Regions from separate parts of the Homo sapiens genome. Here region 2 is linked to region 1. Evidence: fine-mapped expression QTL. Tissue or cell type: whole blood. Region 1 holds a variant in brackets; the other region holds the start of a gene. All regions are shown on one strand. Distances are from middle to middle.

The links. PIP is the estimated chance that this variant, and not a neighbour inherited with it, causes the effect.
Region 2: it holds the start of ZNF10, and the variant in region 1 is fine-mapped to the expression of ZNF10 in whole blood (TOPMed, PIP above 0.99).

What each region holds. Positions count from the first base shown.
Region 1 is chr12:133,093,937-133,102,118 of GRCh38, forward strand. The region is part of intron 4 of ZNF140 (zinc finger protein 140); the gene reads left to right. Among named protein-coding and RNA genes, the nearest start is that of ZNF140, 17 kb to the left of the region's middle. The variant T/C (reference allele first, on the strand shown) is at 4,593.
Region 2 is chr12:133,126,453-133,134,634 of GRCh38, forward strand. It overlaps ZNF10 (zinc finger protein 10), which reads left to right and starts at 4,175. Exons shown (of 5, transcript NM_015394.5): 1 at 4,175-4,302. It overlaps ZNF891 (zinc finger protein 891), which reads right to left and starts at 3,822. Exons shown (of 2, transcript NM_001277291.2): 1 at 3,775-3,822. RefSeq lists silencers at 3,438-3,617, 3,988-4,227 and enhancers at 4,278-4,557, 5,640-5,809.

The DNA of each region.
Region 1 (8,182 bases):
TCTCTGTCTGTTATCCCCTGTGTCCTCTCTCCTTCACACTTAGTCTCTTTTTCTTTCTCTTTTTCTCCCCAGTTTTACTTTTCTCTCTGTTGGTCTTTCCCAAATAATGAAAAGGAGTGGAGGTCTGAATTTTATCAGATGATATTGTCAGGCCTGCGTTTGCAACCTCTGTCTGCAGAAATGTGTAACAGTCAATTAATTTGTCTCTGGTTTCTGGAGCACACAAAATATTATCAACATAATGAATAATACAACAGTCTGAAAACTTGTCTCTCATTGGTTGAAGAACTTGAGCTACAAAAGTCTGACAAATAGTTGGACTATTAAGCATTCCCTGAGGCAACACTTTCCACTGAAATCTGGTGGCTGGTTCTTTATTATTTACGGCTGGTATAGTAAAAGCAAATTTTTCAAAATCCTGTTTTGCCACAGGAATGGTAAAAAAGCAATCCTTTGAATCAATTATAATTAAAAGCCAATCTTTGGGGGTCATGGCCGGAGAGGGCAGCCCAGGTTGGAGAGGCCCCATGGGTTGAATTGCTGCATTAATGGCTCTCAAATCAGTTAGCATGCACCATCTGCCTGATTTTTTCTGAATTACAAACACAGGAGAATTCTAAAGAGAGAAAGTGGGTGGAACACATCCTATTTAAAATAGTTTTTTAACTATTTTATGTAACACCCCCAACTTTTCCTTAGAGAGCGGCCACTCTTTGACCCATACAGGAAGCTGCAGGGCAAGTCTGAATTGCTCCTTCACCGTAGTGAACTGCAGGTTGGGCAATAATGAGTGCCACGAGCCAAGTCGCAGCAAGCGTAGTTTCAGGCTCCCTCCCCCAGCACTCACTCGGCTGAGGAGGAGGTGGCCATCGTGCTTTTAACCCCAACAGCCCTGATGGTTCTGGACTTTTTCCTTTTAATTTTAATGTTTCAGGATATATTACCTCCTGTAATTGATTGTAGTCAACATTTTGCGTTGACCGAGCCATTACTGGCTCTGCTACATTTTTACCATGTGAACTTTCTGTTCCTTTCTTGAACTCTGTTTCTGCCTCTTCACAATCTATTACACAGCTTTCAGGGGCATCAGAAACTGAAACTCTAACTTCTTCTGTTTGAAATGGTTCTAAAGTTGCTTTAATAATAGCCCAATCATTCCATACTGCACGTGGGATGATTTTACCTTCCCTAGTTGCTTGTTTTAATTCTTTGCCAATTTTTTCCCAATCTTTTAAATCTAAAGTTCCCTGTTCTGGAAACCATGGGCAGAATTGTTCTATTGTTTGAAATAGCGTAATTAGATTTTCTGTAGAAGCTTTAACTCCCCCTCTTCTTAAGAGAATTTTAATGAAGCTGAGATAAGAGGCATATTTACTTGCAGTTTGCCCCATTGTTACCCTGGATTCCTCCGAGCGCACAAGCTTACCGCAAGGCTGACTGTGGATGTACTTGGGAATCTCTCGTCGGCTGTCCTCAATGCTCACGTTCTTAGCATACCTTCACCCTAGAGAAAGGCCCCCACATCGGGCGCCAGATGAAGGGGTGGCCTGCCCCTCCACACCTGTGGGTATTTCTAGTCGGGTGGGATGAGAGACTGAGAAAAGAAAGAAGACACAGAGACAAAGTATAGAGAAACAACAGTGGGCCCAGGGGACCGGCATCAGCATACCAAGGACCTGCACCAGCACCGGCCTCTGAGTTCCCTCAGTTTTTATTATTATTTTCATTATTTCAGCAAAAAGGAATGTAGTAGGAGAGCAGGGTGATAATAAGGAGAAGGTCAGCAAAAAACATGTGAGCAAAAGAATCTATGTCATAATTAGGTTTAAGGGAAGGTACTATGCCTGGATGTGCACGTAATCCAGATTTATGTTTCTCTCCACCCAAACATCTCAGCGGAGTAAAGAATAACAAGGCAGCATTACTGCAAACATATCTCGCCTCCCACCATAGGGCGGTTTTGCTACTATCTCAGAATTGAACAAATGTACAATCGGGTTTTATACCGAGACATTCAGTTCCCAGGGGCAGGCAGGAGACAGTGGCCTTCCTCTATCTCAACTGCAAGAGGCTTTCCTCTTTTACCAATCCACCTCAGCACAGACCCTTTATGGGTGTCGGGCTGGGGGATGGTCAGGTCTTTCTCATCCCACGAGGCCATATTTCAGACTATCACATGGGGAGAAACCTTGGACAATACCCCGCTTCCAAGGGCAGAGGTCCCTGTGGCTTTCTGCAGTGCATGTGCCCCTGGTTTATTGAGACTAGAGAATGGCGATGACTTTTACCAAGTATACTGCTTGTAAACATTTTGTTAACAAGGCACGTCCTGCACAGCCCTAGATCCCTTAAACATTGATTTTATACAACACGTTTTTGTGAGCTCCAGGTTGGGTCAAAGTGGCTGGGGAAAGCTACAAATTAACAACATCTCAGCAAAGCAATTGTTTAAAGTACAGGTCTTTTTCAAAATGGAGTCTCTTATGTCTTCCCTTTCTACATAGGTACAGTGACAGTCTGATCTCCCTCTCTTTTCCGTACAATTTACATTTTTTCTAATATATTAATTCAATGCTATAAATTTTCCTTTAAGCACTGCTTTCACTGCATCCCACTGATTATCCCACTGAAATAAGTTGTATTTTCATTTTCATTTAGTTCAACATATTTTTAAGTTTCAGATTTCTTGTTTGTGTTACTTAGAAGTGTGTTGTTCAATATCCATGTGTTTTGAGATTTTCCTTTTAATCTTTCTGTTACTGATTTCTGGTTTCATTCCATTGTGGTCTGACAGCACATATTATATGATTTCTATTCTTTGAAATTTGTTAAGATGTGTGTTATGACTAAGAATTGCGTCTATCTTCGTGAATGTCTTGGGAATTGGAGATGAATGTGTAATCTGTTGAATGAAGTAGTCTACTGATATCAGTTGATTGATGGTGCTGTTAAGTTCAGCTGTGTTCTTAACGATTTTCTGCCTGCTGGATCTGTCCAGTTCTGAAAGAGGGGTGTTGAAGTCCCCAAGTGTAATAGTGCATTCATCTGTTTCTCCTTGCTGTTTTATCAGGCTCTGCCTAATGTATTTTGATGGTTTGTTGTTAGGCACATGCACACTAAGGATTTTTATGATTTCTTTCTTGGAGTATTGACTCCTTTATCATTATGCAATGCTCTTCTTTAACCTTGCTCTGAAGTCTGCTGTGTCTGAAATTAATTTAGCTACGTCTCTTTCTTTTGATAAGTGTTAGTATGGTATACCTTTCTGTACTCACTTATTCTAAATCTATATGCATCTTCATATTTAAACTAGGTTTCTTGTACACAACATATAGTTGGGTCTTGTTTTGTGATGCACTCTGACAATGTCTTAAGTTAGTGTATTTAGACTGTTGACCTTCATTTTTAAAATTTATTTAATTTTTGGCTGGGTGTGGTGGCTCACGCCTGTAATCCTGGCACTATGGGAGGCCAAGGTGGGCAGATCATGAGTTCAGGAGATTGAGACCATCCTGGCTAACATGATGAAACCTCGTCTCTACTAAAAGTACAAAATATTAGCCAGGTGTGGTGGTGGGCACCTATAGTCCCAGCTACTCGGGAGGCTGAGGCACGAGAATGGCGTGAACCCGGGAGGCGGAGGTTGCAGTGAGCCGAGATCACACCACTGCACTCCAGCCTGGGCAACAGAGCGAGACTCTGTCTCAAAAAAAAAAAAAAAATTACTTATTTCTTTAGAGACAGGATCTCCCCATTTCCCAGGATAGAGTGCAATGATACAATCATAGCTCACTGCTGTCTCAAATTCTTGGGCTCAAGAGATCCTTTTGCCTCAGTCTCCCAATGTGCTGGGATTATATGCATGAGGCACCACATCTAACCATGTGTGTGTGTGTGTGTGTGTGTGTGTGTGTTTTTGAGATGAAGTCTTACTCTGTAGCCCAGACTGGAGTGCAGTGGCGCAATCTTGGCTCACTGCGACCTCCCCCTCCTGGGTTCAAGCAATTCTGCCTCAGCCTCCTATGTAGCTGAGATTACAGGTGCCCACCACCACACCTGGCTAATTTTTGTATTTTTAGTAGAGACGGGATTTCACCATGTTGGCCAGGCTGGTCTCTAACTCCTGACCTCAGGTGATCTGCCCACCTCGACCTCCCAAAGTGCTGGGATTACAGGCGTGAGCCTACGCACCCAGCCCCCTTTTGTGTTTTTTATTGAGCATTTTATATGATTTCATTTTCTCTTCTTTCTTAGCATATTGATTATACTTCTTTTTCTCATGGTTGTCCTAAAGTTTGCAATATACATTCTTTTTTTTGAGATGGAGTCTTGTTCTGTCACCCAGGCTGGAATGCAGTGGCATGATCTCTCCTCACTGCAGCCTCCACCTCCCGAGTTCAACAGATCCTCCTGCCTCAACCTCCATAGTAGCTGGGATTACAGGCATGCGTGCTACCATGCCTGGCTAATGGTCTGCATTTTTAGTAGAGATAGGGTTTTGCCATGTTGGCCAGGCTGGTCTCAAACTCCTGACCTTAAGTAATCCACCTGCCTTGGCCTCCCAAAGTGCTAGGATTACAGGCATGAGCCAC[T/C]ATGCCCAGCCTACATTTATAAATAATCCAACCCTACTTTCAAATAATACTGTGCCACTTCATGTGTAGTGCAAGTACCTTATAATAAAATATTTCTCATTTTTTCCTCCAGTCCTTAGTATCACTGTTGTCATTCATTTCACTTATATGTAAGCTATAATCATAAAATACATTGTTATTATCATTATTTTTTTGAGACAGAGTCTCGCTCTGTTGCCCAGGCTGGAGTGCAGTGGCACGATCTTGGCTCACTGCAACCTCTGCCTCCCGGGTCCAAGCGATTCTCCTATCAGCCTCCTGAGTAGCTGGGACTATAGGTGTGTGCCACCATGCCTGGCTAATTTTTTGTATTTTATTTTATTTATTTATTTTTGAGACAGAGTCTTGCTCTGTCACCCAGGCTGGAGTGCAGTGGCACTATCTTGGCTCATCCGCCTCCTGGGTTTAAGCGATTCTTCTGCCTCAGCCTCCTAAGTAGCTGGGACTACAGGCGCGAGCCACCACGCTCAGCTAATTTTTGTATATTTAGTAGAGACGGGGTGTCACCATATTGGCCAGGCTGGTCTCCAACTCCTAGACCTTGTGATCTGCCCGCCTCGGCCTCCCAAAGTGCTGGGATTACAGGCGTGAGCCAACGTGCCCAGCCTTGTATTTTATTTTTTGAGATGGAGTCTTGCTCTGTCACCCAGGCTGGAGTGCCATGGCATGATCTTGGCTCACTGCAGCCTCTGCCTCCCGGGTTCCAGACATTGTCCTGCCTCAGCTTCCTTCCTGGGTAACTGGGATTACAGGTGCACACCACCACGTCCGGCTAATTTTTGTATTTTTAGTAGAGACGGGGTTTCACCGTGTTGGCCAGGCTGGTCTCAAACTCCTGACCTCAGGTGATCTGCCGGCCTTAGCCTTCCAAAGTGCTGGGATTACAGGCATGAGCCACTGTGCCCGGCCAATACATTGTTATTATTTTGAACAAGCTGTTATCTGTGAGGTTAATTAAGAATAAGAAAACTAAGGCTGGGTGCAGTGGCTCACACTTGGAATCTCAGTACTTTGGGAGGCTTGGGTGGGAGGTGCTTGAGCCCAGGAATTTGAGGCTCTAGTGAAATATAATCCCAACACTCTTCTGTAACCTGGGCAATAAAGCAAGACCCTGTCTTTTAAAAAAATAAAATATTTATTTTACTTTTACTTATTTCTTCTTAAATGCTATTCCTTTCTTCATGTAGGTCTGAGTTTCTGACCTGTATCATTTTCCACCTCTCTGAAGAACTTCTTTCAACATTTCTTGCAGGGCAGGTGTACTGGCAACAAATTCCTTAAAAAAACTTTTATTTTTCTAAGAGAGTAATTTCTCCTTCACTTTTGAAGGATAATCTCACAGGCTACAGAATTGTGGGCTTGAGAGTTTTTTTTTTTTCTCTCAGCACTTCAAATATTTCACTCCACTCTCCTTGTTCTTTTTCTTGGTTTCTGAGAAGATCTGATGTACGGTAATCCTCCCCTATCTTCAGGGGATATTTTCCACAACCTCCGATGGATGCCTGAAAATGCAGATAGTATTGAACCTCATTGCCATTGGTTAGAGTATGTTTCTGTTCATGTCTTCCATCCAAAAATTTAATGCCTTTTCCGTTTTTTTTTTTTTTTTTTTTTTTTTTTGGCAGGGTCTTACTTTGTCACCCAGGCTGGAGTGCAGTGGTGTTATCATAGCTCACTGCAGCCTCGAGCTCCTGGGCTTAAGCGATCCTTTCACCTCAACCTCCTGAGTAGCTGGGACCACAGGTGCATACCACCACACTTGGCTAATTTAAAAAAATTTTTTTAGAGATGGGTGCTCCATATCTTGCCCAGCTGGTTGCAAACTTCTGGCCTCAAGCACTTAGGCAATCCCCTTGTCTTGGCCTCCCAAAATTCTGGGATGACAGGCATGAGCCACCTTGCCTGGCCCTTTTACACCTTAACTAAGCACTTATGCACTTGTGGTTGCAACTTTAGCAGTTTGAGGTGCAACAGCGAAACTAGCTGAGTTGCTTTTTTTCTTCTTCATATGAATAGAAGACTCATTCTGCTGTAATCTTAGCAACCTCAGCATATGAGAGAGTTTTTCCTTATTGAGTGGAGAAGAAATTTCACATTTTCCCATTAAGGAAGCACTTTGTAGCTTCTTTTTGGCATATCTGAATTGTCAGCATCACTATTCTTGTGCTTTGGGGCCATGATTAAGTAAAATAAGGGTCAGTTGAACACAAGCACTACGATACTGCATCAGGTGATCTGACAGCTCCTAAGTGACTAACAGGTGGGTAGCATTCGCAGCATAGATATGCCAGGACAATTCACATTCGGGGTGGGGTGGAGCAGGATGGTGCGAGACGTCACACTACTCAGAATGGTGTACAGTTTAAACATGAATTATTTCTGGAATTTTCTATTTAATACTTTTAAATATTGAACAAAGGTAACTGAAGTGGTGAAAAACTACAGAGGAGAGGACTACTGTAATTCCCAGCCTTGTTCCTTTATAGGTAAGGTTTTTTTCCTTTGACTTCTTTTTTCTTTGTATTTGATTTTCTGAAATTGGAATATAATATACCTAATTGTAGGGGTTTTTGTGAGGGGCGAGAGGGCACTTACCTTGCTTGGTGTTCTCTGTGTTTCCTCCATCTGTGGTTTGGTTTATGACATTAATTTGGGGAAATTCTCCGTCATTATTTCCTCAAAGACTGCTTCTGTTCTTCCTTCTTTTTTAGTATTTCTGTTATGCGTATATTACATCATTTGTAGTTGTCCTACAGTTCTTGGATAATCTGTTCCTTTTTTTTCCCTCAATATTTTATCTGTTTTTCAGTTTTGGACGTTTCTATTGAGATATCTACACAGAATACTTATGAGCCCATTGAAGGCATTCTTTATTTTCATTACAGGAATTCTTTTGAGATGGAGTCTCGCTCTGTCACCCAGGCTGGAGTGCAGTGGCGCGATCTCAGCTTACTGCAAGCTCCACCTCCCGGGTTCACGCCATTCTCCTGCCTCAGCCTCCCGAGTAGCTGGGACTACAGGCAGTCGCTACCACGCCCGGCTAATTTTTTGTATTTTTAGTAGAGACGGGTTTCACTGTGTTAGCCAGGATGGTCTTGATCTCCTGACCTTGTGATCTGCCAGCCTCCACCTCCCAAAGTGCTGGGATTACAGGCGTGAGCCACTGCACCTGGCCCATTACAGGAATTTTTATTTCTAGTATTTCCTTTTGATTCTTTCTTAAAATTTTCATTTATCTCCTTACATTATCCATCTCATCTTGCATCTTGTATACTTTTTCCCAGTAAAACTGTTAGCATATTAATCATAGTTTCTTAAGTTCCTGGACTGATAATTCCAACATTCCTACCGTATCTGTCTCAGATTCTGATGCTTGTTCAGTCTGTTCAAACTTTTTTTTTTTTGCCATTTAGTATACCTCATAATTTTACATTGAAGGGTGGACATGATGTACTGAGTAAAAGGAACTGCCTTTTGTAATGTAGTGGTAAGGTGTTGAGGGAAGAGAAGCATTTTGTAATCTTAAAATCATGGTAAGCCTGTGCTTCTGG
Region 2 (8,182 bases), 33 kb after region 1:
AACAAAGCGAGACTCCGTCTCAAAAAAAAAAAAAAAAAAAAAGATAAACTTAAGGAACTTTTCTAGAAAGCTGATCTTGGCTGAACACAGTGGCTTACGCCTGTAATCCAGCACTTTGGGAGCCGAGGTAGGCGAATCACTTCAGGTCAGAATTCTAAGACCAGCCTGGCCAACACAGTGAAACCCCGTCTCAAATAAAAATACAAAAAAAAAAAAAAGCTAGATGTGTTGGTGCACACCTGTAATCCCAGCTACTCGGGAGGCTGAAGCAGGAGAAATGCTTGAACCCAAGAGGTGGAGGCTGCAGTGAGCCGAGATGTGCCACTGCACTCCAGCCTGGGCAACACAGTGAGACTCTGTTTCAATAAATAAATGAATAAATAAGTAAAGCTGATCTAAAAGAAAAAGTAAGAATAAATAAAAAAAGACCACTATATGAGCAATTTAAGGTACCCCAGATTACTCAGAGTTCCAGAAAGAAAAAACAAGAGGAAGAAACAAACAAGTACAGGAAAACTTTTTTTTTTTTTTTTTTTTTTTGAGACGGAGTCGCCCAAGCTGGAGTGCAGTGGCACAATCTCGGCTCACTGAAACCTCTGCCTCCCGGGTTTAAGCAATTCTCTGCCTCAGCCTCCGAAGTAGCTGGGATTACAGGCGCCGGCCACCACGCCCGGCTAATTTTCTTATTTTTAGTAGTAGAGATGGGGTTTCACCATCTTGGCCAGCCTGGTCTTGAACTCCTGACCTCATGATCCACCCACCTCGGCCTCCCAAAATGTTGGGATTACAGGCGTGAGCCACGGTGCCCGGCCAGAAACTTCTTATTCCTTAAAAAAACACAGTATCTAAGAACTGATCCATCAAAGCAAGTAATTTCTTTAAATAATTAGAACACACATCATCATGAAATTTTTGAATACCAAAGAGCTCCAAGAGATGATAAACAGATTACACATAAAAGAACAAGGTATGAAATAGGACTTCTCAACAGTAACAGTAACACTGCTCCATTTCCTATCTAGCTTCACTGGCTTTCAAAATTCTAATGGAAAGTAATTTCCTATTGAGATGTGTATACTCGGTGAAAACACCACACAAATGTGAGGAAAAAGTAATTTCTAATCATTTCTACAACTTTAATATATGTAGATCATATGGACCCTTTCTTCAAGGCAGTTAAGATTACAATCCACCAAACAGGAATAGAAGTGCTTTACAGGAAACAGGAGATTTAACACAGAGGTGAGATGAGGAAATTGATGAGGGCAAAAGGGAAGCCCAGTGGTATGCCAGCGTGCTGCATGCCTACAGAGTAACTGATCAATCTACATTGCAGGGGGATGTCCAGGAAAGGAGAAAAGTGATAAGACTGTATGACAGATTAGCCCTTGAGGAAAATGGAACCAAAAGACATTTTACATAGATTTAAGAAAAACTAAGCAAATGAATAAAAAAGGCAGTCATTAAAAACAAGAAAGGTAAACCTTGCACAAGAAAGAAACATATTATGGCTCAGTACTAAAGAGTAGTCATCAAATGAAAACACTGAACATATTTATCCAAAATTTGTGGGAGAACTACATTATAATATTTGTAAAATAATTACATTGTGATTTAAGGATGTAGAAAGAAGGCAGCCAAAGTTCTTATTTAACATGATAAAAATTTTAAAATAATGTCACAAATCGGTGAATAAAAAAATACTGAGAGGAGTTCGAAGCCAGAACTGCTTAAATATTTCCAAGTGGTTGCCACTGGGAAGAGATGGGGTTAAGGTGTTTCCTGTTTTTATTATGAGTCTTTTAACATATTCAGCTCTTAAAAATGTACACACACATTTCTTGGAGCACAAATAAAGAGTAGTAAATTAATTACCCAGTCAAATCAAGAAGCAGATGGCCAGGCACGGTGGCTCACGCCTGTAATCCTAGCACTTTGGGAGGCCAAGGCGGGCGGATTGCCTGAGCTGAAGAGTTCGAGACCAGCCTGGGCAACACCGTGAAACCCCGTCTCTACTAAAAAATACAAAAAATTAACCGGGCATGGCAGTGTGCGCCTGTGATCCCAGCTATTCCAGAGGCTGAGGCAGGAGAATGGCTTGAACCCGGGATGTGGAAGTTGCAGTGAGCAGAGATCCTGCCATTGCATTCCCGCCTGGGCGAGAGAGAGAGACTCTGTCTCAAAAACAAACAAACAAACAAAAACAAAAATTAGCTGGATTAGCCGGGCGTGGTGGGGCCTGAGGCAGGAGAATCGCTTGAATCCGGGTGGTAGAGGCTACAGTGAGCCGAGATCACGCCACTGCACTCCAGCCTGGAGACAGAGTGAAACTCTGTCTCGAAAAAAAAAAAAAAGTAGAAAAACAGAGACAAAGTAAAAGAAAAATTTAAAAATTAAGAGCAAAACTTACTGTAATAGGACCCCCCTCCCCAAAAAAGACCAAAACAAAACAACAAAAAAACCAAAACCAAATCTACATTTTTGAAAAGACTATGTACACATATACCTTATAGGAGTAATCAAGAAAAAAAGGCCTAGATAATTAGGTTCAAAAAAGAAAAAAATAACAATTACAGCAGTAAAATATTAAAAAGTGGTGATTTTAAAAATCACCATAGAAATTACTTACAGTGATAAAATAGCATGGGCAATTTTATGCCAATAAATTTGAAAAATTAGATTAAAAACAATTATCTAGGAAAGGTATCTAAAACAGAATACGAACTAAAAAACCTAATCAATGAGACTTTTTAAAAAATTGAGTCAGGGCCGGGTGCGGTGGCTCACGCTTGTAATCTCAGCGCTTTGGGAGGCCGAGGCAGGCTGATCACCTGAGGTCGGGAGTTCCAGACCAGCCTGACCAACATGGAGAAACCCCATCTCCACTAAAAATACAGAATTAGCTGGGCGTGGTGGCTCATGTCTGTAATCCCGGCAACTCACAAGACTGAGGCAGAAGAATCACTTGAACCCGGGAGGCGGAGGTTGCTGTGAGCCAAGATGGCGCCATTGCACTCCAGCCTGGGCAACAAAGAGCGAAACTCTGTCTCAAAAAAAAAAAAAAAAAAAATTGAGTCAGAAGTTAAATGCGTACTAAATATTTTAAGACCAAATAGCACCAAACTTTTGGAGGCGGGCGGGGGGCGGTGAGGGGTGGTGACCTGTTTTACAGAATAGAAGAGAGACTGTGCTGTCCAAATTATTCATGAAGCTTGTAAAATCTTGTTAGTATAACGGGCAAGGATAGTACACAAAAAGATTAAAACACAATCTTGTGAGCATAGGTGAAGTCAAAGGGAAACAGCCAATTGAATACACCAGAGTATTAAAGAAATAAAACCATATCGCATTCAACCACAGTATAAGGCAATAGGTGAAAAAAACGATGGCTGTGATTCAACTCATTACTAGGTTTAGAGATTCAAGAGAGGCTGCTGGACAGAGGCGTGCACCCTTTAGCCCTCCCGTGTTGCTTAGAGAAGGAGGCAAACGCGCATCCCCGGCCCCCCAGCGCTCCCTGCGTGGCACCCGCAGCCAGCCCGGGACCCCTCCGCCCCGCGCGCCCCTGGTCCCCACTCGCTCCCCGCGCTCCACTCGCACCCGGTAAGTAGCCCCTCCTCCCTCAAGGGCCTCTCCCACCGCCGCCTCCCGGGCAGGCTCCCTGCTGCTCAGACTCCCGTGAGGCGATCCCTGCACGCAGGAGAACTCAGCGGGCCAGGCTGATCCCACGAGGGACTTGTCCCGGGTGAACGAGCCACAGGCCCGCATGCTCACCCGTCCTCAGTGCCTGCCTCCAGGCGTCCGCGGTCCCGCCCGAGGGGGACGCGAGGCCGAACTACGTTTCCCAGGAGCTCCTGCGCCGCCCCGCAGAGGGGCCTGGTCTGTGCGTCACGGACGCGCTCTGGGCCGAAGGCCCGCAGGGTCCGGCACAGAGTGGCGGCTGCGGCGCCGGCGACGAATCGCCGGCTCTAGGGTCCCGGGGCGCGCGGCTGACGGGCTGGGGGCGGAGCGTGGCCTGAACGCCAGGCTGGGGCGCGTGCGTAACGGTGTGTGTTGTGGGTGCGTGTGCGTGCGTTCGCAGCAGGGGCGGGCGTAGGACCAATGGGGGCGGGGCGCGTGCGCGTGCGTGACGTCAGGCCACGGGGAGGTGGCGCCGCCGTGCCGAGCCGGCCTCAGACTCACCTCTGACGCCGCTCTTCGCGCTCCGCTGGTGAATGGAGTCGCGTTCTCTGTTTTGCTGTTGCTGCTGCCTTTGTGACGGGATCGCTTTCTCCCATCGAACCTTCTAGTTGCTTATTGCAGGTATATACGAAAGTGCTGAATTTTGTGTTTGCATCGTCATCAGGCGCGTGTTGAGCCCTTTAGTAATGTAGCAGTGTATTAGCTTCGTATTTCTAGGTAGACGGTAATTTCGTCAATGAAAAAATTTAACGGTGATCGTCACCCCTTGCCTCAGTCACTTTCTGTCCCTCGCGCGGCCCCGGCGTTCACGGCGGACGTTCTTGTTCTGTGGAGAATAACGGCTGCACCTGGAGATTGACGCAGAGTGGGCGGCGGTGGTGGTAAGTTTGAACCAGATATTTTCAGTAATACAAAATAAGGTTTCTTCTAGTCTAACTTCCATTTTTCCCCCCAGCTGGGATAGATGTTTAAAATTTTGCATATGGCCTTTCTAGTATTTGTTGAAATAGTGACGCCGATTCGTGTGTGGTCTTTTAAAAACAAATCCTGCATCTCTAGCTCTTAGCTTCCTCATCTTTGTTTTGTTTTTTAATCAGATAGATTAACTGAAGGCGTGTTTGTGTGGTTAATCTATTTTTTTTATTTTCAGAGACAGATCATAAGTTTAATTACTATATTTTTATTTTCCCTTGACACTAGATATATATACGCCATCTAACACATAATATGAGTGTCAAAGATAAGGTTAACATCAAGATTTCGTACGTAGATCCCACCCAAAGTGTATGCAGAAGGTGAACAATTTCAATTCCAGCTATACATTAATTGCAGAAAGATACTGTTAATTAAAAAAAAAAAAGTAAAAGGGAAGGCAGGATGTCACCCAGAATGCCAGCCAACAAGTGTTATTAGGTTAGAAATGACTGCAGTTAGGTCTCCGAGAACTGGATAGCACAAATCCTCCCTACCCTTTTGAAAATTACCTCCACACTAACTTTTCTCTTGTGACATAACTAATCTCTTCTGTTTTACTAAAATTGTCCCCCATCTTCCAAAGCCTCTTGGATGGTAAGTTGCACACGCTCCTGCCTCTTTTTGAAAGTTACATTTGTTTTTTGATTACTTCTCTCAGCATGCATTTCTTTAGCTCTTAGTATATGCTAGTCACAAGGGCAGAGATTTGAGATACACATCATAAATTAAATGAGAATTTCTGCTTATCAGTATTTTATATAAGCACTGTCTGGAAATTCTACTTAGGACAATATTTAAGTAGATATGAGGCTTACCTTCTGGAAAAGAGATTACAAAATTATCCTTGTTAATTAATTAACTAATTAAGTCCCCAAAATGAGAAGAGATTCAATTACTATCAATAATTTGTAGTAAAGTGACTGAAAAGGAAATATATAAGCTAATAGATTGATTGCCGTCCTCAACAAGTTAGCACATACTTTTATTTTTAAAAAGTCTTCACAATAGGAAGAAAATAATTTTAGCTAGAAATATATGTGAACTATATGAGAAAAACTTCAAAACCTTACTAGGCAATTCTTACTAGAAGAATAAAGGATGAGTAAGAATAAAAACAGTTCTGTTTATAGATTATATTCAATTGTCAAGAAAATCTGAGAATTTTTTTTTTTTTTTTTGAGATAGAGTTTTGTTCTTGTTGCCCATGCTGGAGTGCAATGGCTCGATCTTGGCTCACTGCAACCTCTGCCTCCTGGGTTCAAGCAATTCTCCTGCCTCAACCTCCCTAGTAGCTGGGATTACAGGCGCCAGCCACCATGCCCAGCTAATTAACATATGCCAGTCACAAGGGCAGAGATTTGAGATACACATCTTAAATTAACAAGAGCAACAAGAGCGAAACTCCGTCTCAAAAAAAAAGTATTTTAAGGAAAAAGAAATTTCTTATTGTTAATATCTCTGTTGTGCCTACAAGAGACTCTTTTACTTTCATCAGCAGTACTCTTTCTAGCATGTCTCATGTCAGCCAGGGCTTTTAATTCTTCTGGCTATGAAGCAAGGTTGGGACAAGATATGATATAGGCCACCTTTGTCTGTGTATGTGCCTCTTTGACTCGTAATGAACATCCAAGAGCATTATTTTTTCCTCTTTCCACACAATATCTCCTTGCTGACTGATCCTAACATTTCCTGTTCAAAATTTTATTATGAAGAATTTTGAGCATACAGCTAAATTAAAAGAAGTTTACAGTGAATACTTATAAACCTTCCCATCTAGACTCTACCATTAATATTTTACTGTACCTAATTTTAACACATACCCATCTGTCCCTCTTTTTATCCATCAGTTCATTGTATTTTTAAATTTTTTTCAAAGTAAATTGACATGGGTACGTATTCCTTAAAAATTTCAGAATACGTATGTATTATTAATTAGAATTCTATATTTGTTTAGATTTTTCTTTAGATGTAAAATTTACATAACATGAAAAGCGCAAATCTTAAGTGTACATTTGCTGAGTTTTGACAGATGCAGGATCTTTGCCTTTTGTATCTTTAAGTATATCTTTGCCATGTCTATTGGTTACCGAGTTTTAACTTTGTGGCTGCTGGGTCCTTTTTGCTGATCATACCTTGCCCTTTGCTGAAGCAAATACTGGTAAACCTATTCAGAACTTGAAGAGACCCTGTTCTCTTTATTAATGAACATGTACTCCATGTCCCCAAGTGAAATGCGGTTCCTGACGAGGTTGTACCTGTCAATGTGAGTGCTGGTTAAGTATAGTCACATGTCAGAGTGAATGAATATGAAGTGCTAAGCACTTTGCTAGCCTCTTCCCAGGATTTAGAATGAGATTGTCCTAATTCTTAAGTGGTTCACTATCTCATAAGGGAGACAGACAAATCTTGGTACCGTAAGGCAGCGTTGAAGTGCTGGAATAGGGCATGGGCAGAGTCCTTCATGTTTACGGATGATAGAACCACTGATCCTCTCTGAGATAGTGGGAAGGCGTCACAGCATAGATGGCATTAAAGTGATCCTTAGAGAATATGGGGCAAGTGTAGTGGGAGTTAAGTTGAAAAGGGTCCAGAACGTTGTTGTGAAACTTGTACGCTAAGTGTTTGATTGGAGCTGTGCTTTGGAACTGCGTGTGCCTCAAATAGTAACTTTCATAGCCTTCTTGCCGATACTTGGAGCTTCTTTTCAGCCCATCTCTGCCCTTGTGGCAGCCAAAATAATGGCTCCCCAGAGATATCCCCAGCACCTGGGAATATTTTACCTTATACTGCAAAATAAAATTTGCAGTTGTGATTCAATGAAGGATCTCAAGATGGGGAGAGATTATCCTGGATTATTTCAGTGGGCTTAGTGTAATAACAGGGGTCCTTAAAAGTAAAAGAGCTGGGTGGCCGGGCACGGTGGCTCACGCCTGTAATCCCAGCACTTTGGGAGGCCAAGGTGGGGAGATCACCTGAGGTCAGGAGTTCGAGACCAGCCTGGCCAACTTGGTGAAACCCTGTCGCTACTAAAAATACAAAAAAAAAAAAAAAAAAATTAGCTGAGTGTGGTGGTGGGCGCCTGTAATCCCAGCTATATGGGAGGCTGTGGCAGGAGAATCACTTGAACCCAAGAGGCGGCGGTTGCAATGAGCCGAGATTGCTTCACTGCACTCCAGCCTGGGCAACAGAGCAAGACTCCCTCTCAAAAAAAAAAAGTAAAAGGGGGATAAGAAGGTTAGCAATCAGGGAAATATAACCATGAAAGAAAGGCACAGAGAAATGTATCATTGCTGGCCTTGCAGGTGGAGGAAGGGTCAGGAGCCAAGGAGTGTAGATGGTCCTAGACACTGGACGGGGGCAAGGAAATAGATTCTTCTCTAGAGCCTCCAGAAGGAACACAGCTCTGCCAACACCTTAATTTTAGCCCTCCGAAACCTGTATCAGACTTCTGACCTCCAGAATTGTTATGTAACAAATGTGTGTTGTTGAAAACCACAAAGTTTTGATAATTGGCAGCAATGGAAAA